7 linked regions of the Homo sapiens genome follow. The protein of the gene in region 6 purifies or fractionates together with the protein of the main gene of each other region. This does not show direct contact. Each region holds a gene or a part of one and is shown on either strand. Other genes may lie near its edges. The genes, in order: NPAT, CDK11B, STAT5B, EAF2, KRT8, POU2F1 and LMNB1.

Region 1 (3,500 bases), on a different chromosome or scaffold from region 6:
TCCTGCTTCAGCCACCCGAGCTGCTGGGATAACAAGCATGTGTCATGATGCCCATATAATTTTTGTATTTTTGGTAGAGATGGGATTTCACCATGTTGGCCAAGCTGGTCTCGAATTCCTGGCCTTAAGTGATCTGCCCTCCTTGGCCTGCCAAAGTGCTGGGATTACAGGCATTGAGCCACCATGCCTGGCCCCATTACATATCTTTATTGTATCATTTCATTGTTTCTCTAAATTATTATACAATTTGTAGCAGTGTAGAAGAAATGTAATTTATATAAACACTGTATTACTGTTTATTACACACAAATATACCCACTAATAAATGTTTAAGTATTGAATACTTAGGAATCCATGACTGTGGATGCAATATAGATTCTATTTTAAGTCATCATCCAATGTGTTTTTCAGGAACAGACTGCATTCAATGAATGAAGAAAAGTTTTATCTTACTATTGTAAATCATTTTATCTAATTAGATGGCAAATCATAACATCTTATGTTGGCAATGGTTTTGAAATGAAACCAAAATTACCATCAATCTTAAGTATAAGTAACACACACGCACCCATGCACACCCCAACCACCCATACCGGAAGTCCTAGGAATTCATCAATTGAAGTCTCTGGCTCCGTAGGGTTGTTATCTGTTTGCTTAGGTACTTGGGCAATATTGTTATCACTGTTAATAAAGAAAGAAAAATCTTTATTATAGTTATGCAATTAGGCAAAAACAATTAGGCATTTTAAACATATATAGCTTACCTAGTTAAAAATTTATTTATGTTTTCTGCTAGCTTTTCTTGAAGAGATTTGTTGCTTAGTATTTTTTCTCGTGCATTTTCAATAACCATTTGCTGGAAAAGAAAGCCACTGTTAGCAAAAGGACAATAAAGAGTATTCTGCTATTTAATATTTATAAGAAAAGAACAAACCGATAAGAGCTGGATAGTTTTAATAAACCTAAATGGAAACTCAGAAGTTGTGATGGCTCCCTCCATATTAATACCTGAATACAACACTTCATAATTTGCAAATGTTTTCACAGATCTTTCACCAACTCTTTCTTATACAGTTCCACACTCATCATCAAACCCCAGTAAATGCCCTATTTTTACAGTGTCGCTCTATAGCCCAGCCTGGAGTACAGTGGCACAATCTCAGTTCACTGCAACCTCCACCTCGCAGTTCAAGCAATTCTTGTGCCTTAGCCTCCTGAATAGTAGCTGGGATTACGGGCGTGTGCCATCACACCCAGCTAATTTTTGTATTTTTAGTAGAGACAGTTGTCCAGGCTGGTCTTGAATTCCTGGCCTCAAGAGATCCGCTGGCTTTGGCCTCTCAAAGTGCTGGGATTACAGGTACAAGCCACTACTCGCCGGCCAGTTTTTTTTTTTGAGACAGGGTCTGACTCTGTCACCCAGGCTTGAGTGTAGTGGTATGATCATGGCTCACTGCAGCCTTGACCTCCCAGGCTCAAGCAGTCCTCCCATCTCAGCCTCCCAAGCAGCTAGGACTACAGGCACGTGCTACCACACCTAGCTAATATTTGTATTTTTTGTAGAGAGGGGGTTTTACCATGTTGCCCAGGTTGGTCTTGAATTCCTGAGCTCAAGCAATCTGCCCACCTCAGCTTCCCAAAGTGCTGGGATTACAGGTGTTTGCCATAGCACCTGGCCAGTATTTTATTAAATGATCCAACAACAACAATGTATTTACAGATATCTATAAACTTACTCCTGTTTCTTTATTTGATACATACACACATACATACATTTGTGTATATATCTGTATTTTTAAACTCAGGAATATTTTAAGTTGCAAAGTTTGGCAGAGTCACTTACTTTTTCTACTGCAAAAGCGTTTGGATCTTGGAAATTCCGTATTGTTGAATGAGGGCCAGACAAAGTGGTACTTTTTCTCTGAGATTCACTGAAACACATTTTAAAAGCTTTTCTTTTAACCACTATATTTAACAGATTTAAAGATAAATACATATACAGACATAAATTTTAAGATCACCATAACAGAACAGATACAGTTGTCCCTGTATCTGCAGGGGGCTGGTTTCAGGACCCCCAAGGATATCAAAATCCACATGTACTCAAGTCCTACAGTCTGCACTAGGAAGCCCATGTATTCAAAAAGTCAGCACACTGCATATAGGCAGGTTTTACTACTAAATTTTTAATCTGTGTTCGGTTGAAAAAAACTTGAGTATAAATGAACCCATGCAGTTGAAACCCATGTTATTCAAGGTCAACTATATTTTCTCTATTTGTGTTAGGAACAAAGGGAAGTACAAAAAGTATTAGTAGTCTTGAATTCAAAAAAATGAGTTTGAAGTCTAGCTTTACCACTTACTACCTATGGTCTGAAGCACAGCAAGCTCTGACTCTCTAACCTACTTTATAATGACCAACTGCATTATTGGGTTTACTAAAGAATGGAATGAAATAAAGTATATATAAAGACTTTATTTAAAAAGTCAGGGTTCCTATAAATGTTAAATATTAATGTTGCTCTTTTATGGCTGGGCATGGTGGCTCACATCTGTAATCCCAGCAATTTTGGAGGCCAAGGTGGGAAGATCACTTGAAGCCAGGAGTTTCAGACCAGCCTGGGCAACAAAGTGAGACCCCCATCTCTACAAAAAATAAAAAAATTAGCTGGGTGTGGCGGCATGTGCCTGTGCTGCTGGCTACTGGGGAGGCTAAGGTGGGAGGATCTTCTGAGCCCACAAGTTCGAGGCTGCAGTGAGTTATGATTGTACCACTATACTCTAACCTGGTCAAGACAGCAAGGCCCTATCTCTAAAAATAAAAAAATGGATATTGCTGTTTGTTATTTTATATGGTGAAGTGAGAAAGGCTCCAATAAAGGAGGCTAACTAAGGTCAGTCTTGAATGAAAGACAACCAAAAGTAAAAACTCTAACAAAAATACCCAGGGCTTGGGAGCTAAGAAACTAGAATAAACATTTTAAAACTATTATCTCTTTCAAAAAATATCCTTCAAACAAAGACACACTTTTCTCAAAAGTGTTTTGGGAAAAACACTTTTCTCAAAGATTGTGCCTGGAAAAATTCCATCAATTGATCTTAGGACTTTAAATGTGTGTGGAGCATAGAACATAACTGTATTATTTACATTCAGTTAAAAAACATGGATTGCAAAAAATCTCAGATAACATCATTTGTAAGATATACCATTATTTTATATACCATTACAGAATAAACATATTTCCCATGAAACAGTGATATGCCATTAATTGAGAGATGCAACCCAATTTCAGGCAGGTTAAAATGTGAAGAAAGACAATGTATTTTGGAATAGTTCTAATATAGATCAGAACATAATCTGGTCCTATTAGTTTATTCACAATGTAAGTATCCTGATGTAATTCTTTTTTTTTTTTTTTAATGGATACGGGTAACTTGTCTCTTTTAAAAAGCATTTACCTTTTGCGTCTACCGGGAGACATTAAACTGGCATGTGCTTT
Region 2 (4,111 bases), about 170 Mb from region 6:
GGTCAGGCATGGTGGCTCACGCCTGTAATCCCAGCACTTTGGGAGGCTGGGTGAGGCAGGTGAATCACCTGAGGTCAGGAGTTCCAGACCAGCCTGACCAACAAGGTGAAAGCTCGTCTCTACTAAAAATATAAAAATTAGCCGAGCGTGCTGGCAGGTGCCTGTAGTCCCAGGTACTCAGGAGGCTGAGACAGGAGAACTGCTTGAACACAGGAGGCAGAGGTGGCAGTTAGCTGAGATCATGCCACTGCACTCCAGCCTGGGCAATGGAGCAAGACTGTCTCAAAAACAAACAAAAAAGGCCGGGCGCGGAGGCTCATGCCTGTTGTAATCCCAGCACTTTGGGAGGCCGAGGTGGGTGGATCATGAGGTCAGGAGATTAAGATCATCCTGGCTGACACCGTGAGACCCCATCTCTACTAAAAAATACAAAAAATTAGCTTGGCATGTTGGTGGGCCCCTGTAGTCCCAGCTACTTGGGAGGCTGAGGCAGGAGAATGGCGTGAACCCGGCCCTGGGCGACAGTGCGAGACTCCGTCTCAAAAACAAAAAAAAAGCTAACAAAGTGAGCACATGCTATTGGAAAAATGCTCAATGCAGAGTTGCTACAAACCTTTAATTTGGAAAAATTTCAATATCTGTGAAGCATAATAAAGTGAAGTGCAATACAACAAGGTATGCCTGTACTCACTAACATCCCAAATGATGCTGCTAAAGATCTTAGCAAAAGAGGTACTTTGCCAATGCCTCTTACCAAATTACTAAAAAGGTTTCCTGAGTACATTACCATGCAAACCAAGAAAGATGTAAAATATTTATATTAATTTCAAGGCAAGTTCCCACTATATTAAAAATACTTAGAGATAGTATTATGAACATACTAATGAACCGAGAAAAATTAGTCCAGTTTTGCTAATGACTTAACATTCAACGTATTTTATTCTCCATGTATGCTCAATCTAGACACAGCTTTAGTGTGTTAAATCTGCCTTTAATGTCAACTGAATATTTGAATGTTTTTGTTAATTTTTAGAATAGATTTTGGGCTCACCTGCGACATTTGGAAGTACAAAAGAACTTCACCGAAGAAGCGTTGTTCTAATGGAAAAATGAGGGCAAAGAAATTAAATCTCCTTTAAGAAAACCACTTACTTAAAAAATATGGCTTACATTTTTTAAGCGTTTTATCTCTGCTTTCTCCTCTTGTTCCTTCCTTCGTTTCTTTTCCTGAAGAATTTCATCTAAAGTTTTCACTTTCCAAGAGTCCTTTTCATCACCCATTTGAGTTAAAACACTGCAAAAAGAAAAATAATTCAGCCTACATCAGGACACAGCAAGCTATGGTGCTGAACACTTGAACCTAGTCACTTTTGAGGGATTCAGAATAAATCCTCATTAAGAATAAGAAGTTGTGCCCGGCGCAGTGGCTCAAGACGGTAACCCTAGCACTTTGGGAGGCCGAGGCGAGCAGATCGCTGGAGTTCCGGAGTTCAACACCAGCCCGGGCAACATGGCAAAACCTCGTCTCTACAAAAAATACAAAAGTTAGCCCAGTGTGGTGGCGCGTGCCTGTATTCCTAGCTACAGGAAGGAGGCTGCTAGAGGCAGGAGGATCACTTGAATCAGAGAGGTCAAGGCTGCAATGAGCCAAGACTGCGCCACTGCACTCCAGCCTAGATAACAAAGTAAGACTTGGTTAAAAAAAAAAAAAAAAAAAAAAAAGTAAGCTCTAGGCTGAGGCGGGTGGATCACAAGGTCAGGAGGTCAAGACCAGCCTGGCCAACACGGCGAAAACCCTGTCTCCACTAAAAATACAAAACTTAGCTGGGCGTGGTGGCGGGTGCCTGTAATCCCAGCTACTCGGGAGGCCGAGGCAGCAGAATCGCTTGAATCCGAAAGGCGGAGGTTCCGGTGAGCCGAGGTCGCGTCACTGCACTCCAGCAAGACCCCGTCTCAAAAAAAAAAGAAAAAAAAACAAGAATGATAAGTTGTAAGCCAGGCAAGGTGGCGAGCGCCTGTAGTCCCATATACTCTGCAAGCTGAGATGGGAGACCGATTGAGCCCAGGAGTTCCAGGCTGAAGTGCGCTTGTGAACAGCCACTGCGCTGCAGCATGGGCGACAAAAAAGAGTGATGGGTTCTGAAAAATGACCGCTTGAAATCAAGTCTCGTTTCTGTCATTCTTGTATGGTCTTGGGTAACGTAATTCACCTCAGTTTAGTCTTCCGTACAACCAGAATAACAACACCTACGTGATAGTATCGATCGCGGATTAAAGATCATCCGTTTAAAGGCTCTTAACTCAGGACCTGCCACTCATCAAACACTGCTTTTACTGTCAGAATCTGCTAGAAAGACCGCTTGGACTACGTGAAGCCACTAGCACACTGGACAGCTGCACCTTGAGACCGGGGAGATGCTCCGAGATGTGCTCGCGAACAAGGCCACCTGACCCGGGCACTGGGCTATTTCCTCGGGTTCAGTCCCGCACACTTGAGGTTCAGCCTGGCAGACGTTGGCTCCAGACAGCGTTTGGACCCGCCGCCTCCACCACCCAAAGTTCCGTGCGGGATGAGACTGTCCGCGGAAGCGAGGGTGTCGCTCGCCCCCGGGCCCGGGTCCGCCCCGCTCCGAGGCCTGCTCGGAAGAAAGACCTCGGTGCGCAGTTCTCCTCGCGCTCCCACACCTGGTCCGCCCAGTCGGAACTCACCCCTACGCCGCCGCCGCTGCCGCCGCCGCCGCCGCCGGTCCCGGAGCCAGAGAAGAAACAGCAACCGGCGCGCGCCAAAAGTATCGTCACTTCCTGTATTGGCGCGTAATGATGATATAATAGCCGACCTCCGGCCCAGAACTCGAGACAACGACAGGGGCTCGCTCTGTGCGGCACTTCCTGTGTCTGCGCGGGATGATAACGCATAAAACAGCGCTTGCTCAGGTCCAGGACGCCAGAAGAAACAGCCCGGTGAGCGCACTTCCGACTTCGGCGCGGGCTGTGACGCAGGAATCGGGACTCCGGAGGAGCGACGCCCACTTTTGGAGCAGTTTGCGCCTGCGCGGAACGCGTGGCCGGCTTCCGGAATCCTACCGGGACTTTTCCGGTAGCGAAGCCCGCGCCTGTGCCAAGGCTTGCGAGCAGAATGCCTTCGCGATGGACGCCCGCATTCCACCCCCTTGACCGCTGGGACCCCTAGTGGCGGGTGGGTGGAGCGCGCTCCATTTACCTGCTGGTTACCTCGTGAGGCGCCTCAGGTCTGTGTGTCTTGTAAAGGCCGATCTCGGAATTTAACTCTGAACCTTACTCAGAAACAGGGCAGGGAGAGCTCTTACGATGTGATTTTATTTTATTTATTCATGTATTTACTTTTGAGTCGGAGCCTTGCTCTGCCGCCCAGGTTGGAGTGCAGTGGCGTGGTCTTGGCTCACTGCAGCCTCCTCCCGGGTTCAAGGAATTTTCCTGCCTCAGCCTCCCGAGTAGCTGGAACCACAGGCCCGCGCCACCACGCCCGGCTAATTTTTATATTTTTGGTAGAGACGAGGTTTCGCCATATTGGCCAGGCTGGTCTCGAACTCCTGACCTCAAGTGATCCGCCCGCTTCGTCCTCCTAAAGTGCTGGGATTACAGGCGTGAGCCACCGCGCCCGGCCTTTTACAATGTGATTTTGAAGCTGACACTGGCAGTGGGTCCTCAAAGTGCAGACTCACTGGGTATGGTGCTTCCCCCAACTCCCAGGGCCCCACTCCAAACCCATGGATTCAGAGCATTGCAGGAGAAGAGGATAAAACGAGCAATTAATTCCCTTTCCATATGTCAGGTTTTCCTCTTGACTTGAAAAGTCACAGAAAAATGCTTTAGACATCTGAATCTCAGGAAACAAACAATGGAAGATAAACATCCGCATTTACTGGGCCTGAAATGGGAAAATGAAAGATGTGGCAAGAAACTGACAAGGGCCCAAGAAGGGCGATGGGTATCGGAATTTTTTTCATCCCGGAATGAAATGCTGCTTGCTTTGTGTACCCAAGCTCTTTTTTTATTTTTATTTTTTTGAGACGGAGTCTCGCTCTGTTGCCCAGGCTGGAGTGCAGTGGCGCGATCTCGGGTCACTGGAAGC
Region 3 (3,500 bases), on a different chromosome or scaffold from region 6:
ATGTCTAGAGCTCTGCAAAGGCCATTAGAAAATAGTCTCAGATTTTTTTTTTTTTTTCATTTATGATGCTTACTTTCTCTCAGCACTTTTCCTTGGGAGTGGATTGTGAAGTTAAGTCTTGGAAACAGAATTCACAACCCTAAAGCGTAGTGCTTTAACTTTGGGAGATCAAGTCACAGACAAGAAGAACTTCAATTCCCTGTGCAGAGTATAAACTTGTTCAAATAAACAGAGGATGTTAGCTTCCAGGATTGTCAACTGTCACCTTTGACCAGGGTTGAATTTTCTTTGAATGTTGACAGAAGTTACAATGTCAGTGGAAAAAGCTTAATGTGAGGTATCTATAACTCAGAATTTCCTTATGTTTGTGTCAGTGAGATCCTACAATTAAAGCTGCTTCTTTTTTTCTATGTCTGATGAGTTTTAAAAGCCTTCACTGGGGTTTTCCAGCCTTTAGGTGAGAGTAAGTTAAAAAGTTTGTGAGAAACTATTTTTTGTTGTCTAAAATTCAGAGCCTAGGTCGGGCCCAGTGGCTCACGCCTGTAATCCTAACAATTTGGGAGGCCGAGGCAAGCGGATCACGTGAGGTCAGGAGTTGGAGACCAGCCTGGCCAACATGGTGAAACCCTGTCTCTACTAAAAATACAAAAATTAGCCAGGTGTGGTGGTGCACGCCTGTAATCCCAGCTACTCAGGAGGCTGAGGCAGAAGAATCACTTGAACCCAGGAGGCAGAGGTTACAGTGAGCCGAGATCGCACTACTGTGCTCCAGCCTGGGAGACGGAGCGAGACTCCATCTCAAAAAAATAAATAAATTAAATAAATTCAGAGCCTATAGCTGGTGGCAAGTCACTGTTTTTGAAGGAGTGGGATTTTAAAAAATCTAACCTGGGCTAAATGTTAAGTTACATTCATACATGTCATTGTAGCCTATATAAAAAGAAACTTGAACACTTGATCTCTTAAAGTACTAAAAATTGGAATTCATCAGCTTTGTAATATAGCATTCATTCTACAGTATATTTAAATAGGTAAAATGTTCTGTTAGAAATAATGCTAATTCTGTTTTTTTGTTTAATGTTTCTAAAAATCTTTTGGTCATCTTTTAGGTTTAGGAAAAGTAGCAAATTAGAGATCTACAGAAATCTACAGCTCTTTAAAAATGAAACAGTTCACCCTGTGAATTTGTTTGCAGGATTGGTGATCTGTTTCTGATGCCAGGAAGGTGGGACTCCTATCTCATTTCTGATAGAAAGTGAGGGAAAGCTATGTATAGTGAGAACTGGATACTAGATTCTTATTCCGAAGGCATGGAAGGTTTAATATGTAAGGATACAATGTAAATAGTCCCTCTTTTTGTATTTTTCTTTGGTTATTGTTACGTAACTATAGTCGTTTGTCACTTAATGATACATGGTGACAAAGTTCTAAGAAATGCATTAGGCGATTTTGTCATTGTGGTACCATCATAGAGGGTACTTACACAAACGTAGATGGTGAGCCCTACTGCACACCTAGGCTGTATGATAAAGCCTATTGCTCCTAGACTACAAACCTGTGGAACATGTATACTGTATTGAGTACTGTAGACAATTGTAACACAAGGGTAAGTATTTGTGTATCTAAACATATCTAAATATAGAAAAGTTACAGTAAAAACATGGCATAAAGGATAAAAAATGGTACATCTATATAGGGTACTTAACAGGAATGGAGCTTGCAGGACTGGAAGTTGCTCTGGGCAACTCAGTGGGTGAATGGTGAGTGAATGTGAAGGCCTAGGACATTACTGTACATTACTGTAGATTTTAAAAATACTGTCTGGTTAGGCTACATTAAATGTATTTTGAAAATTGTTTCTTTCTTCAATAATAACCTTAGCCTACTGTAATACTTTTACTTTGTAAACTTTTTACTTTTTTTTTTTTTTTTTGAGATGGAGTCTTGCTCTTGTGGCCCAGGCTGGAGTGCAGTGGCGTGATCTCGGATCACTGCAACCTCTACCTCCCGGTTCAAGCAATTCTCCTTCCTCAGCCTCCCGAATAGCTGGGATTACAGGCGTGTGCCACCACGCCTGGCTAATTTTTGTATTTTTAGTAGAGACGGGGTTTCACCATGTTGGCCAGGCTGGTCTCAAACTTCTGACCTCAGGTGATCCACCCACTTTGACCTCCCAAAGTGCTCGGATTATAGGTGTGAGCCGCCGTGCCCGGCCAACTGTTTACTTTTTTACACTTTTAAACTCTTTTGTAGTAACACTTAGCTTAACACATAAACATGTACAGCTGTGCAACAATATTTTCTTTATGTTTTTATTCTTTTACTTTTTCTCTTTTTAAATAATTTTTAATTTTTCAAAACTTTAAAAACTTTTTAATTTTTCAAAACTTTAAAAACTTTTTCTTAAAAGTGAAGGCATAAACACACACATTAGTCTAGGCCTACACAGGGTCAGGGTCATCAGTATCACTGTCTTGCACCTCCACATCTTGTTCCACTGAAAGGTCTTCAGGGGCAGTAACACATATGGAGCTGTCATCTCTTGTGATAACAATGCCTCCTGAAGGACCTGCCTGAGGCTGTTTTACAGTTAACTTTTTTTTTTAAGTAGAAGGAGTACACTCTAAAATAACGATAAAAAGTATGGTAAATACATAAACCAGTAACATAGGCATTTATTATCATTATCAAGTATGTACTGCACGCAATTGTATGTGCTAGACTTTCACATGACTGGCAGTGCAGTGGGTTTGTTTACACCAGCATTGCCACAAACATGTGAGTCATGCATTGCATTACAACATTATGATGGCTACAGCGTCACTAGAGGATAGGAATTTTTCAGCTACGTTTTATTATCTTATGGGACCACAGTGATATATGTGGTCTGTCATTGACTGAAACGTCATTATGTGGTGCCTGACTACATATATGGAAACTCTGAGTGTAGTCATGTTTTACAAATGAGTTTATCTTGCAGTGAGTTTAAATATCAAGTAAAAATACTAATTTCATTGTAATGTATGAAGAGATTGGCCTTTCTCCTCATGTTGAAGGTATCAAAACAAAATAGAAAATATTTGGCTTCCTGAGTGGCATGGCTACAATTCACATGCTGAGTTGGTGATGAGGCAAGATCCCTTGACTTTGCAATACCAGAAAAATGCACATAGTTAAAAAAAAATAGAGACAGGGGTCTTGCTATGTCTCCAGGTGATCCCTCCCACCTCCACCTCCACACCTCCCACCTCAACCTTCCACAGTATTGGGATTACAGGAATGAGTCACTGCACCGGGCCAAAAAGCATATAATTTTAAGGGAATGATTTTTTTTTTTTTTTTTTTATTTTTTGAGACAGTGTCTTGCTCTGTTGCCCAGGATGAGTGAAGTGTGCCAGGAGTGGGTCCTTAAGTAAGAAAACGTATTACTTTAGACACACATTTAAAATTTTGTCCAAAAATGTGATATTCTCAAAATTTATGGTTTTGAATTTTATTTA
Region 4 (3,500 bases), on a different chromosome or scaffold from region 6:
TTCGGCCTCCCAAAGCGCTGGGATTACAGGGGTGAGCCACCGCGCCCATCCCATTTTTCATTATACTATGATTTACTACGTAAAGTCACTTATTCCACAAACTCTTTGTTCTTTCGGCATCAGAGCTTTTCACATACTGTTCTGTTTGCTTATTCTACTCCTTGTCTACCCAATAAAATCTTACTTGTCCTTTAAAGGCTCAGCTGAAATATTGCTTGCTTTATGAAGCTTTTTAAGATTCCACCAGGCAGAGTATTTGCTTCTACTTATGTGGTTACATAGAATTTCATATATGCTCTAACTTATAACACTAGATGTTATGTGTCTGTCTGCTATAAAAGATTAGGACTAGAAGGCAAGGGATATGTTACTATCCTAAGGTCAGTGTTTAAAATCTGGCTTATAGTAGGAATTTAATAAATATTTGTTTAGACTCTAATTTTTTTTCAAATCATTTGCTATGATAGTTCTTGGAACTATTAAATGGACTAAAGTATTTTAAGTTTTTTTTGCCTAAAGTAGTTTAAAATATGGTTTTTGCTTATCTGTGCTTACTAATTACTTTAACCAATTATCACTACACAAATTGTGCAATTATTTTCATTTAAATTTACTGAGAATCCCACAAAAGTGATCACTTTAAAGATACAGAAATACTCACTTCTATATTTGGCAGAGTTATGGTCACCTGTTCACCTTCACCAACCTCAAGGTATCCTTCAGAAGAAGTGTCAATAGAAGCAGGTTTGAAGTCATCTAAAAATAGATACAAATACCAATTTTTGTAAAATGTAATGATATTTGGATATAAAAATTATGAGCATGTTTCAGAATGATAAATCATTTTTCAAGAGCTTTGTAATTAAAATGGTTTAAAGTATTCATATTACAAATGAACAAACAAAATACAATCTAGTTTATTTATTTCTGTATGCATAATTCTGAGAAAAAAGAAATAGCTATACTCTAAAACAGAATTACTGACACTCATGCTTCCATAGAATCCTGTTTAGACAAGATGAACCTGACTAACATGTTCTACTGCTAAAAACTAAATAATGTCAGTGTTTTCACAACTTGCTAAAAAACTGATATAGGTAGAATGTTTTCAATTTTCAGTCCTTTTTTCCAATAAATTTTTCTTTTTTATGTCATTTTTAATGGCTGCTGACTTAGTTCATGAATGTTGGCCCATAAATTTTTTTTAAAGCACCTTTGGTGCCTACTACCACTTGTCTGTCATTCTACTACCACTTGTCTGTCATTCTATCCAAACAAAATGAATGAATACATAGCAAATACAGTACATATTAATGAAGAAACTTAAGAAAAAGTAATCTTTCTAGTTTAACAGTTTTTTTCATGAATATGTACACCACTAAATGATGTATAATTTAACCAAATCTGTCACTTTAGAAGATCTTAAAATACAATTTAATTTTGAGTTAAATCATAGTTCAAACGATGCCATTAAAATCTATCATCTAGGAGGAAATTCAGGGTACTAAGATATTTCACATGTTAAACAAGCTTAAAACCCTCTAAGCAATTAAAGCCATTTAAAACTAATTCATACGAATATACATCAACAGCTAATAATTCTGATATATAGTTCCCTGTGTTATATATACATTAGCTCCTTATTAAAATATGGTATAATGCAAAAGAGAACAAAAATTAAGCTTTGACTTTTACACAGTGACACATGTAACCACCAACCAAATCAAGAAATAGAACATTACCAGCTCCACGGAGCCCCCTCCCAGTTATTACCCATTGTTCCAAAAGATTAATCTTCATATTAACAAAAAGGCCCCAAAGACAGAAAGTCTAAATCCAAAGTAATGGATATTTATAAGTGGAATTTAGGGAATTATAATTAGAAAACCTTGGGAAAGGAGAATTTTCCAATAATCATCAAATTATTGCTCTGTAAATAAACAAAGGCTGGCCCTGCTTCACGATGACAATTAAAATAGCTGACATTTATGGAACACTTACTACATGCCAGGCACCATGCTTAACACTTCATATTTACCTCTTATAACAACTCTGAAATAAATGAAATCCATTCCTCTATTCCTTAAATAAACATAAATGCAAATGAATATAAACAATTTACAGAAAGTATTTTTATAATATATTCTTCATGCTGCTTTAATTAAAAATTGAATAAGATCTTGATGCTTATTCCTAGATTTTAAGATACAGTTATAAAAATAACATAAGCAATATGAAAATGTGAAAGAGTTTTGATTTACAGTATATCCCTAGAAAGTATAACTGAAGAGTCAAAGGATAAAGATTAGACTGAAAATAAGTTGAGGAGTTTGTTAGCAGTGGCAAAGTGAGAAAAGTGAAAGGTATAATTAAGGTGTTAAGTTTTAGATGCTTGAAAAAGGGTTTGGACTGAGGGAAATAAGTTTTAAATAATGTCAATTGTTGAAAGGACAGTGCTATTGAGGAGAAAAAAATCAGAACTGAACTTGAGTAAGTATCACAGAGATAAAGTAGAAGAAGCCAGAAAATCTAAGAGAATGAACACAGATATGAACAAAAACAACAATAACAGCTATTACATGCTGATCAATTTTAAAAGTTTTTCCTGATGATTTTTACTTTGAAGCTTCACACCAATCCTGAAAAGTAGTGAATACCCCATCTTACAGATAAGGGAAGTGAGGGTGGAAAAAAATTAAGTTCCTTGCCCAAGATCATGCAACTGTTTTCTAAAGCTAGAAAAACGAACTGCAAAACCCAGTTAGAATAAAAAAGATGAAAGGTTGGCCAAGATATATCAATGTCAACAAAGAGAGAAAAAAACTTTAGTTTGGGCTATCAAATACCATTTATGAATCTAAAATAAGAACCAAAGTCATTTAATATGGATATATACAGTATAAATGAAGTAACTGCCTCATAAAATCTTTCACTATTTATAAATAAGTTATCGTCATGCCCTATGTGGGTGCCTATACTAGTGGACTTTGTTGATCCGCAACTTTATTAATTATTATTATTTTTTGAGACAGGGTCTCACTCTGTCCTGCATGCTGGAGTGCAGTGGCTAGATCTCGGCTCACTGCAACCTCTGCCTTCCGGGTTCGAGCGATTCTCCTGCCTCAATTTCCTGAGTAGCTGGGATTACAGGCACATGACACCACACCCGGAAATTTTTTTATTTTTTTATTTTTTTTTTATTTTTGAGACGGAGTCTCTCTGTCGCCTAGGCTGGAGTGCAGTGGTGCGATCTCAGCTCACTGCAACCTCCGCCTCCCGGGTTCAAGCGATTCTTCTGCCTCAGCCTCCTGAGTAGCTGAGATTACGGGCGTGCACCACCATATCCGGCTAATTTTTGTATTTTCAGTAGAGACGGTTTCACCATGTTGGTCAGGCTGGTCTCGAACTCCTGACCTCGTGATCCGCCCGCCTCGACTTCCCAAAGTGCTGGGATTACAGGCGTGAGCAACTGCGCCCGGCCTTATTTTTTATATTTTTAG
Region 5 (2,693 bases), on a different chromosome or scaffold from region 6:
GCCTGGCCAAGGAGGAGTACAAGCCTGAGAGCTGGACAGCTCTGGGTTCCAATGCCAAATCTGCTAGTTTCTAGATGAGCCAACTACTTGGCTTCTCTGAGCCTGGCTTTCCTTATATGCAGATAGTCCTGATGCCAAGGTGTAGGGGAAGCACACTAAGCTCTCTGCTGATAATGCCCTCAAAAACTTGCTCTGCCTGCCTCTTGAGCCTTGCTGCACAGATCACATGAACCTTGGGATTTGAAAGCACACTGTAAACCAGAAAGCACTGTGCACAGGTCAATGACTATTATACAGGTGTAGATATCTATGGCAACAAGCAAGGTTTCAACCAGGTTTCAATAAAGGAGCCTCTTTAGGAACAGCTGAGGGGGTCAGACTTTCCCGCTGTGCACCCCCTGCTTCCTGGACCCCTCCCAGCTTCTCAGTCCCAAGAAGAGGCCTCCTGACCACCTCCCTCCCACCCCAGTGGACATCAGATGCACACACAAGCAAGGACATTGGCAGAGCTAGCTGAGGTTTTATTTTGGACCAAAAAAAAAAAGCAATTGAATTGTTTTGTAGCTGGAGGCATGGGCAAGGGGGGTCCCCAGGTAGTAAACTCCCCAGGTGGGCTGAGGGCTAGGGCTGAGCCTCAGGTGGGTCTCCTGTTCCCAGTGCTACCCTGCATAGCGGCCTCCTTCCCAGGCTCTGGGGCAGCGCAGGAGGGGTAGGCTGGGAGGGGCTGCCGCAGCTGTTCACTTGGGCAGGACGTCAGAGGACTCAGACACCAGCTTCCCATCACGTGTCTCGATCTTCTTCACAACCACGGCCCTGGAGGAGCTGGTGCGGCTGAAGGAGCTGGAGCCCGCGCCAGAGCCAAAGCTGGAGCCCAGGCTGTAGCTGAGGCCGGGGCTTGTGAGGCCCCCATAGGCCGAGCTCAGACCACCTGGTGAGGGACAGAGGTAGCCACATGAGTACAGAAGCCCACCCCATGGCAGGCTCCATGCCCCTTCTCCCTGCTCATTCCCAACATAGCCCCAGGGATGGGAGGTTAACCCAGCTCTGCCTGATCAGTGATTGCATGGTTCACTACTCCAGAACTGTCAGGGAAAACCAGGAGCAGGGTGGAAAACAGCTGCCATATATATAGCTGTGTGACCTTGGACATTTAGCTGCACCTCAGCTTCCTCAACTGAAGACGTTTACAGGTGTCATATAAAAAATAAATTACAGCCAGGCCCAGTGTCTCATGCCTGTAATCCCAGCACTGATCACAAGGTCAGGAGTTCGAGACCAGCCTGCCCAACACAGTGAAACCCCGTCTCTACTAAAAATACAAAAATTAGCTGGGCATGGTGGTATGCGCCTGTAGTCCCAGCTACTTGGGAGGCCTGAGGCAGGAGAATCTCTTGAACCCAGGAGGTGGAGGTTACAGTGAGCTGAGATCACGCCACTGCACTCCAGCTTGGGTGACAGAGCGAGACTTCGTCTCAAAAAAATTAAATTAAATTAATAAATAAAATAAATCACATAAAACCTGTAGGATACTTAGCACAGTGCCTGGCACACAGCTATGGTTTATTTGGGTGCTTTCTAATAGTAAAGTTACTAAGTAATAAAGTTATTACTGGGGTCCTGAATATGTGCCTCCCCACCCTAGGATTCTCCCAAGAACATGAGTGCTCAGGCTGAGGTCACTGTGAGCGACTGAGCACAGCCCCCTCCCTGGAGCTGAGGCCTCCCTGGGCCCTGCCTCCCGCCCTCATCCCAGGGCCCTGGGACACCCACCTGCATAGCCGCTGGTGGTCTTCGTATGAATACTCATGTTCTGCATCCCAGACTCCAGCCTGTACCCAGACAAATGGGGTGTCAGGACCAACTCCTAGCCCTTCTTGGCCCAGAACAACAGGACCCCAAGTCCCAAGGGGCTTCAGGGGGCTCCCACCGTCCCCACCCCAGGTCCCAGGGATAGGGAAGCAGGTCCGGTCAGAGGTACCCACACCCACCGGCTCTCCTCGCCCTCCAGCAGCTTCCTGTAGGTGGCGATCTCGATGTCCAGGGCCAGCTTGACGTTCATCAGCTCCTGGTACTCACGCAGCTGCCGCGCCATGTCCTGCTTGGCCCGCTGCAGGGCGGCCTCCAGCTCGGACAACTTGGCGTTGGCATCCTTAATGGCCAGCTCTCCACGCTGCTCGGCATCTGCAATGGCGGCCTCCAGGGAAGCCCTCTGTGGGGTAGGGGACAGGTAAGTAGGTCAGGTTGGGTATGCCTTCTCTTCTCCCGTGCTCCCACCCTCCCTCAGGGTCCTCCCCACCACCACCTAGGCTGACTCCCCCCAGCTCAAATTAAATGAGACTAAGGGCCGGGCACAGTGGCTCATGCCTGTAATCCCAGCACTTTGGGAGGCCGAGGCGGGCAGATCACAAGGTCAGGAGATCGAGGCCATCCTGGCTAACACAGTGAAACCCCGTCTCTAGTAAAAATACAAAAAAAATTAGCCAGCCTGGTGGCGGGCGCCTGTAGTCCCAGCTACTCAGGAGGCTGAGTCAGGAGAATAGTGTGAACCCAGGAGGCGGAGCTTGCAGTGAGCCGAGATCACGCCACTGCACTCCAGCCTGGGCGACAGAGCAAGACTCTGTCTCAAAAATAAATAAATAAATAAACGAGACTAAGGAAGCAGATCAGGGAGACATGAGCAGTTTCCAGGTGCT
Region 6 (3,500 bases):
TTATTGTTCTGACATTATGTAAAGGTGGTATTAATATTGTATGACTTGTCAAAGTGCTAGATAGGTTTATAAGTAGGTAATAGGGATGTTGAAGATTAGAGCACTTGAAACAGAAGTTCTGGGAAAACAAGGTGTGTGTAATGGAACACCACTTTGAGCACAGAAACAAAGGTCCCTTGGACCTGGTAGGGAAGATGTGATTTATGATTGTTTCTGTGTCCCTGTATCTGCCCACCCTGCACAGGGCTCCACCACCCAGGGCCACCTTCTGGTTTAAACCCAGGACACTGTCAAAAAGTTAAGACCCCAAAACTAATTTACTGTAAAAAACATTGAGGACTGCTGCAAAGTTTTCCCTTGTTTTCTTTGTGTACTTGTTCATCATTGTATAAGTTAGCCACAGCTTCACAAGAGCAGCTTAAGGCTTCTTTCATAAATTGGCAGTGGCATTGAGTTCTCAAACATTATATCCCAAAGTCTGCAGGCAGACAGCTGGATACAGCGCTGTGTATAAATGAGACGTCCAAACACTTGAGTTTCTTAAGATTGGGATCTCTTTCAAATGAAAAAGGACAGAGCCAAGTAGAGAAAAGACTTTGTGCTCCCACCCAGCCTTAATGAGTCTCATGGTCTAAAAGTATAGGAAGAAATGAAATGCACTTTCAGAAGCTAAAATGACAGTGTCTGCTACAAAAGGCTGTAGTTGTAGGCAGTCGGGGATGCCATGTCCTTGGTTCCATTCCTGCGTGAGTCTGCAGAAGGCACACACTTTGTAAGAGTAGAGTGGACTAGTGCCAGCCTGAATAGGTTTAAAACTGCAAACAGTTGGAGAACATGGAACAGGTTGGTGCAGGAAGCCTAAGATTTTGCAATCATATTATAACATTGGCTTTTGACAACATAAATGTTGTATCTTCCCTAAGGTCAGGTCGGGGAAAGAAAGACTTCCAGCTTCTTACCTCTGCGTGCATGGGCACGTGTGCATTGCTCAGTCCGCAGGAGGTCTCACTCCGCAGGAAACGCTCTCCTCCCGCATAAGTCTGTACTTCCATCCCCTCATCTGTGGTAGTAGTGAAGGCTAGGTGAGTAAGCGTGGGCTGTTCTACCCACCAGAAGTCCAGGAGCTGTTGTATACCTCATTTCTAACTCGTGACCGAGTGACTTGCTTTAACTTTCTCGAAATCCTACAGAGTTGCCAAGTCTGCCCTCCCTCCTCAGTCATGTTAAACTCTGGCCTATAGCATCATGGGACCTGTAGCCTAGGGTGGGACCCCCTAAAGCCTCTGAATGTCGCTGCTTAAAAGCTACTGCAAACTGAGGGCAAATTGCAATCTTCTATTCCTTTTTGTTGCAAGGGGTCTTCACAGGTCTCTTAACATCTGCTTTCCCTGCCACCCTGCCTTTAGGGGCTGGCCAGCTATCCACACCCCTAACCCACCCTGTGTTTCTGACAGCTGGCCACACGTCAACTTCTGTACTTGCCTTTTCCTTGGTGGGGTAGAGGCCAACCCCTTCTCCTCTGAGGCCTCAGGGTTCTGTTTCTTTTCAGGACTTTGGGTAGAAGGGAAGACACCAAAGGCTCCTTTAAGCTGACTGCTGCATACACATTTCACTTTTTTTCCTTTGACATGACCAAAAATATCCAAATATTTAAGTTTATTATTATTATTATTATTATTTGACAATCTTATATCCAATGGGCTCTCTAGAAGCTGCATCCCCAGCCCTTTCACCTTTTCTTTGAATGTAGTTCCCAACCTTCAATTCCCACCCCTAATGCTGACAAAAAGCTTAGCCAGGTCATGATACTGCTGCTATAAGCCAGGGGAGGGTGGTTTCTTTGTTTTGTTTTGTTTTGTTTTGTTTTTCAAATTTCCAGCCAAAACCAAAGATTTCTTAATGATTGTATAAACTCAAAACAAACAAAAGAACCAAAGAAAAGGGAAGTCTTCAGCATCAGTCCAGTCTGTGGTGTCCTGGCACTTAGAAGAGTGAGGCCAGGGAAGGTGGGGCGGGGGGACCCTCTGACTGGATCAGAAAGGGCAGGCAAGCTGCTTACCACCTTCCAGGGTCCAGCACAGGTGCATGCCCCTAGCTTTGGCCCTCACAAACTTGTGAGCATGCCCTGAAACAAATTGGCATTTCAGATTTTCCAAAACAAAAGTCAAAAAACCCCATCACCACCATCATCCACCCTACACCAACCAGGGTCACTATGGGGACTTAGCACAGGGCCTAGGGAGGGTGGGAGCTGCTGCTGGACTGGCCCGAGGACTCCACAGAGTGGGGGACGTTGAAGACACTGGCGCACGATTGGCTGCTCTGCTGGGTGCTTTAACCTCTGGGGCTGGGCGAATGCACGCCACGGTGCCCTTCTGAGCCTTTTTTTCTTTTCCTGTACTGGAACTGCTTGGAAGTGGCTGTCCTGTTTGTGAGAAAACATGCAGAAAGATTATCAAGCTTTTCATTTCTCTTTATTGTAGTTTTCTTTCCTTTTTGCAGCACCACTGTGCAACTATGCATTGTACTTCACAACCTTTTGTGCTAGGTAGATGCCTGTGACTTTTTAACTTGGGGGGTGGGGGGATTGCAAATGAAGGAACTTTTTACATGGATCTTTTTAATCTCAGTTGGTTGGGGGAGGGGGGTACTTGGTTCTTGGGTCACACAAGCTCTATCCCAAAGCAAAATCCAAATGTTAATAATATTAGCCTGATGCAGATACCAAAGATAATTTCTTTCCTGCAGAACCTTAGACTCGTGTATTAAGTACGATTACCCAGCACTTGCATTAGTCTAACCTCAGTAATTCCAAAGCTTAGATGTATATTTTGGTATATTTCTGGGATATTAAAAAAAAAATGTCGTTTAACTTCTTGTTTGTTTCAGTGTAATGCTCTTAAAGTCATAGCATGAAAATAATTGAACTGTCCTATTCTTAGTAGTTTGAAATAATAGTATTTTTGTATGTTTTGGGTGTGTCTATGTATGTATTAACATAACAGTTTTCACTGCCTAGGTGTTCATAATAAAAAAGAAAATGAAAAAAGTTCTGAGTGTACATAATATTCAATAATAATCTCCCACCAGGTGTCAATTTAGATTGCATATTCCTCATTACTGTTCCCAACTGGGATTTTGTTTTCTTTTAAAGAGACAGTGATCGTGTTTTTCTAAAGATGTTTTCTTTCTCTCTTTCAATATCTTAACTCACTTTTTTTTTCTTCCTTTTTTGTCTTAATTATTAATTCAGGGGTGTTTGTCCACTGTTGTCAAAGGAGGGGCACAAGGGGAATTGGCCCCCGGCCTCCTAGAACTTTTTGTTTTATGTACTTTAAAATGTGAGTTTGAGTTCTTCTTTGTGGAAACTTAAGATGTGGTGTAAATGATTCTTTCCAAAATTGTCCAGCAGCTTGAATGAGGCAGTGACAATTCTGAGGTGGTTTATTGGGAGTCCTTCTACATTTCTCTTAGATAACTCTGCACTCTGGGTGGCTATT
Region 7 (3,500 bases), on a different chromosome or scaffold from region 6:
CCCCACTAGACTGTAAGTAACTTGATAATGGGGACTGAGTATCCCATTTCTCTATTCCCAGCATCTGGTTCAAGACCTGGCATATAGTACCTGTTCCACAAAAATGTGTCTTGAATAAAGAATGAAAGAACACCCTGTCATGAGTATTAAAGATTTATTTAGAGGTTTTAATTTCTTTTAAATTATTAAGGCATGGAATAAAGTTGGAAAGTAGCTTTTTAAGAAGAGAAAAAAGATAAAAGCGATCTCTTTCAGTAATTCATCTTCACCTTTCTTTAGCAAATGAAGCCCTCAGTATTTCAAACAGCTGTTTCAACTACTGACCACTACCCTTCTGACAAATCCAAAATTACCTCCCTTGAAGGCTACAAACTATCAACGTGAAAAACATGCAACTAGTAGCATTTCCAAAAGTAGCACCCAAAGGGATCTGAAAATCAACTATCCTATCTGAGACTTCAAGTACCAACCACAGATAATGATGCTCTGTGAGCCTGCTACATGTCGGTAAACCAGAGTAATACCTGTAGAACACTGTTGTATGGATGAAATAAGGTTATGTATGTGAACACCCTATCACAATGCTAGAAGTCAGGCTACCATCCTTTCTAGCTTTCATTACTTGCTAAGTAATACCAGGCAAAATACTTAAACTCTCTGAGCCTGAAGTTTCCTTACTCATCAGCAGTTATCATGAGCTTAAAAGATAATGTCTGGCCGGGAACGGTGGCTCACGCCTGTAATCCCAGCACTCTGGGAGGCCAAGGCAGGAGGATCACGAGGTCAGGAGATCGAGACCATCCTGGCTAACAGTGAAACCCCGTCTCTACTAAAAAATACAAAAAATTAGCCGGGCGTAGTGGCGGGCACCTGTAGTCCCAGCTACTTGGGAGGCTGAGGCAGGAGAATGGCGTGAACTCAAGAGATGGAGCCTGCAGTGAACCGAGATCGTGCCACTGCACTCCAGGACTCCAGCCTGGGCGACAGAGCCAGACTCTGCATCAAAAAAAAAAAAAAAAAAAAGATAATGTCTGTAAAGCATCTACTGTAATGCCTGGCAAACAGAATTGGCACAAAATAAATGTCAGCTTTTTTTTTTCCTGCATCTTTTCCCCCACCCCCCAAAGGGAGTCTTGCTTTGTCACTCAGGCTGGAGTGCAGTGGCACGATCTCGGCTCACTGCAACCTCTGCCTCCCAGGTTCAAGCAGTTCTCCTGCCTCAGCCTCCTAAGTAGCTAGAATTACAGGTGCCCACCACCATGCCCGGCTAATTTTTGTATTTTTAGTAGATACAGGGTTTTGCCATGTTGGCCAGGCTGGTCTCGAACTGCTGACCTCAGGTGATCCGCCCACCTCGGCCTCCAAAAGTGCTGGGATTGCAGGCATGAGCCGCTGGTCCCAACCTAAGGGTTGGGCCCAACCTAAGGCCCAACCAAGAATTTTCTTCTTGGTGTTTGTGTTTTCTCCTTTTCTATAATGAATATACATTTGCTGTTTAAAAAATTTAATTTTTGGCCTGGCACCGTGGCTCACACCTGTAATCCTAGCACTTTGGGAGGCTGAGGCAGGCAGATATTGCCTGAGCTCAGGAGTTCAAGACAAGCCTGGGCAACCTGGTGAAACCTCGTCTCTACTAAAATACAAAAAAAAAAAAAGAAAAAGAAAAAGAAAAAAAAAATTAGCCGACGTGGTGGCGTGTGCCTGTAGTCCCAGCTAATCAGGAGGCTGAGGCAGGAGAATTGCTTGAACACGGGAGGCAGAGGCTGTAGTGAGCTGAGATCGTGCCACTGCACTCCAGCCTGGCGACAGAGCAAGACTCAGTTATTAAAAAAAAAAAAAATTAATTTTTAGGCAGGGCACCGTGGCTCACACCTGTAATCCCAGCACTTTGGGAGGCCAAGGCGGGCGGATCACGAGGTCAGGAGATCGAGATGATCCTGGCCGACATGGTGAAACCCCGTTTCTACTAGAAATTAAAAAAAAAAAAAATTAGCCGGGCATGGTGGCGGGTGCCTGTAATCCCAGATATTTGGGAGGCTGAGGCGGCAGAATCACTTGAACCCGGGAGGCAGAGATTGCAGTGAGCCAAGGTTGTGCCACTGCACTCCAGCCTGGTGACACAGCAAGACTCCGTCTCAAAAATAATAATAATAAAATTAATTTTTAAAAATTCGGGCGGAGGGCAGTGGCTTACGCCTGTAATCCCAGCACTTTGGGAGGCTGAGGCGGGCGGATCACGAGGTCAGGAGATCGAGCCCATCCCGGCTAACACGGTGAAACCCAGCCTCTACTAAAAATATAAAAAAAAATTAGCCCGGCGTGGTGGAGGGCGCCTGTAGTTCCAGTTACTCAGGAGGCTGAGTGAGGCAGGAGAATGGCGTGAACCCGGGAGGTGGAGCTTGCAGTGAGCCGAGATGGCGCCACTGCACTCCAGCCTGGGCGACAGAGCAAAACTCCGTCTCAAAAAAAAAAAAAAATTCAAGCCAGGCACGGTGGCTCACGCCTGTAATCCCAGCACTTTGGGAGGCCGAGGCGGGTGGATCACGAGGTCAGGAGCTCAAGACCAGCCTGGGCAAGATGGTGAAACCCCATCTCTACTAAAAATACAAAAAATTAGCCGGGCGTGGTGGCACGTGCCTGTAATCCCAGCTACTCCGGAGGCTGAGGCAGAGAATTGCTTAAACCTGGAGGGGCGGAGGTTGCAGTGAGCCGAGATCGCACCACTGCACTCCAGCCTGGGCGACACAGCGAGACCCTGCCTCAAAAAAATAAAATAAAATAAAATAATAAAAATTCAAATGACAGCCGGCCAGGTGCGGTGGCTCACGCCTGTAATCCCCGCACTTTGGGAGGCCAAGGCGGGCGGATCATCCAAGGTTGGGAATTCCAGACCAGCCTGACCAACATGGAAAAACCCCAAGTCTATTAAAAAAAAAATACAAAATCAGCCGGGTGTAGTGGCGCATGCCTGTAATCCCAGCTACTTGGGAGGCTGAGGCAGGAGAATTGCTTGAACCCGGGAGGCGGAGGTTGCAGTGAGCTGAGATCGCACCACTGTACTCCAGCCTGGGCAACGAGAGCAAAACTCTGTCTCAAAAAAAAAAAAAAAAAAAAAAAAAAATCAAATGACAGCCAAAGCACAATCTCCTTATCAAAGAGGTACACTGTAAAAAGGGTTTAAAACTGATTTTAAAAACTTCCCTGATCCTAAAAATAATGGGACCTATACAGGGTCCCATTACTCAACTGATACCTGAGGCTCATTCTCAACATTTGTACATGAAAGAGACTTACACTAATGGCATAAAAAAAAAGTCTGAAGATTTCTAACTCAGACATATCAGAGGTGACACCATCTATACAAACGAAAGAATAAATATAACCAGCAACTGTGTAAAGACACAAAAAAGAAAAGACCCACCATATTTTAATAGTGCTTTATCTTTCATTCTGCCTGTTTACTTCCTTGAATCTGGGTATGCAAAATATTACCTAGTCTC

The links.
Region 1: the proteins of POU2F1 (region 6) and NPAT purify together in Homo sapiens (affinity purification with western blotting; one study listed by BioGRID). This does not show direct contact.
Region 2: the proteins of POU2F1 (region 6) and CDK11B purify together in Homo sapiens (affinity purification with western blotting; one study listed by BioGRID). This does not show direct contact.
Region 3: the proteins of POU2F1 (region 6) and STAT5B purify together in Homo sapiens (affinity purification with western blotting, with the first as the bait; one study listed by BioGRID). This does not show direct contact.
Region 4: the proteins of POU2F1 (region 6) and EAF2 purify together in Homo sapiens (affinity purification with mass spectrometry, with the first as the bait; one large-scale study listed by BioGRID). This does not show direct contact.
Region 5: the proteins of POU2F1 (region 6) and KRT8 purify together in Homo sapiens (affinity purification with mass spectrometry, with the first as the bait; one large-scale study listed by BioGRID). This does not show direct contact.
Region 7: the proteins of POU2F1 (region 6) and LMNB1 purify together in Homo sapiens (affinity purification with western blotting; 2 studies listed by BioGRID). This does not show direct contact.

Annotation. Positions count from the first base shown.
Region 1 is NC_000011.10:108,184,639-108,188,138, forward strand, and holds part of NPAT (protein NPAT), read right to left. Parts: coding exon 3,460-3,500; intron 1,932-3,459; coding exon 1,844-1,931; intron 857-1,843; coding exon 765-856; intron 682-764; coding exon 594-681; intron 1-593. UniProt on the Homo sapiens protein: Required for progression through the G1 and S phases of the cell cycle and for S phase entry. Activates transcription of the histone H2A, histone H2B, histone H3 and histone H4 genes in conjunction with MIZF.
Region 2 is NC_000001.11:1,656,205-1,660,315, forward strand, and holds the start of CDK11B (cyclin-dependent kinase 11B), read right to left. Parts: upstream 2,801-4,111; 5' UTR 2,710-2,800; exon of another isoform or gene 2,252-2,709; intron 1,295-2,251; 5' UTR 1,282-1,294; coding exon 1,171-1,281; intron 1,099-1,170; exon of another isoform or gene 1,061-1,098; coding exon of another isoform or gene 1,052-1,060; intron 1-1,051. UniProt on the Homo sapiens protein: Plays multiple roles in cell cycle progression, cytokinesis and apoptosis. Involved in pre-mRNA splicing in a kinase activity-dependent manner. Isoform 7 may act as a negative regulator of normal cell cycle progression.
Region 3 is NC_000017.11:42,266,392-42,269,891, reverse strand, and holds part of STAT5B (signal transducer and activator of transcription 5B), read left to right. Parts: exon of another isoform or gene 1-1,606; intron 1,607-3,500. UniProt on the Homo sapiens protein: Carries out a dual function: signal transduction and activation of transcription. Mediates cellular responses to the cytokine KITLG/SCF and other growth factors. Binds to the GAS element and activates PRL-induced transcription.
Region 4 is NC_000003.12:121,841,709-121,845,208, reverse strand, and holds part of EAF2 (ELL-associated factor 2), read right to left. Parts: intron 757-3,500; coding exon 662-756; intron 1-661. UniProt on the Homo sapiens protein: Acts as a transcriptional transactivator of TCEA1 elongation activity. Acts as a transcriptional transactivator of ELL and ELL2 elongation activities. Potent inducer of apoptosis in prostatic and non-prostatic cell lines.
Region 5 is NC_000012.12:52,896,691-52,899,383, forward strand, and holds the end of KRT8 (keratin, type II cytoskeletal 8), read right to left. Parts: intron 2,295-2,693; exon of another isoform or gene 2,210-2,294; coding exon 1,989-2,209; intron 1,830-1,988; coding exon 1,771-1,829; intron 929-1,770; coding exon 738-928; 3' UTR 501-737; downstream 1-500. UniProt on the Homo sapiens protein: Together with KRT19, helps to link the contractile apparatus to dystrophin at the costameres of striated muscle.
Region 6 is NC_000001.11:167,423,386-167,426,885, forward strand, and holds part of POU2F1 (POU domain, class 2, transcription factor 1), read left to right. Parts: 3' UTR 1-3,500. UniProt on the Homo sapiens protein: Transcription factor that binds to the octamer motif (5'-ATTTGCAT-3') and activates the promoters of the genes for some small nuclear RNAs (snRNA) and of genes such as those for histone H2B and immunoglobulins.
Region 7 is NC_000005.10:126,783,636-126,787,135, reverse strand, and holds part of LMNB1 (lamin-B1), read right to left. Parts: intron 1-3,500. UniProt on the Homo sapiens protein: Lamins are intermediate filament proteins that assemble into a filamentous meshwork, and which constitute the major components of the nuclear lamina, a fibrous layer on the nucleoplasmic side of the inner nuclear membrane.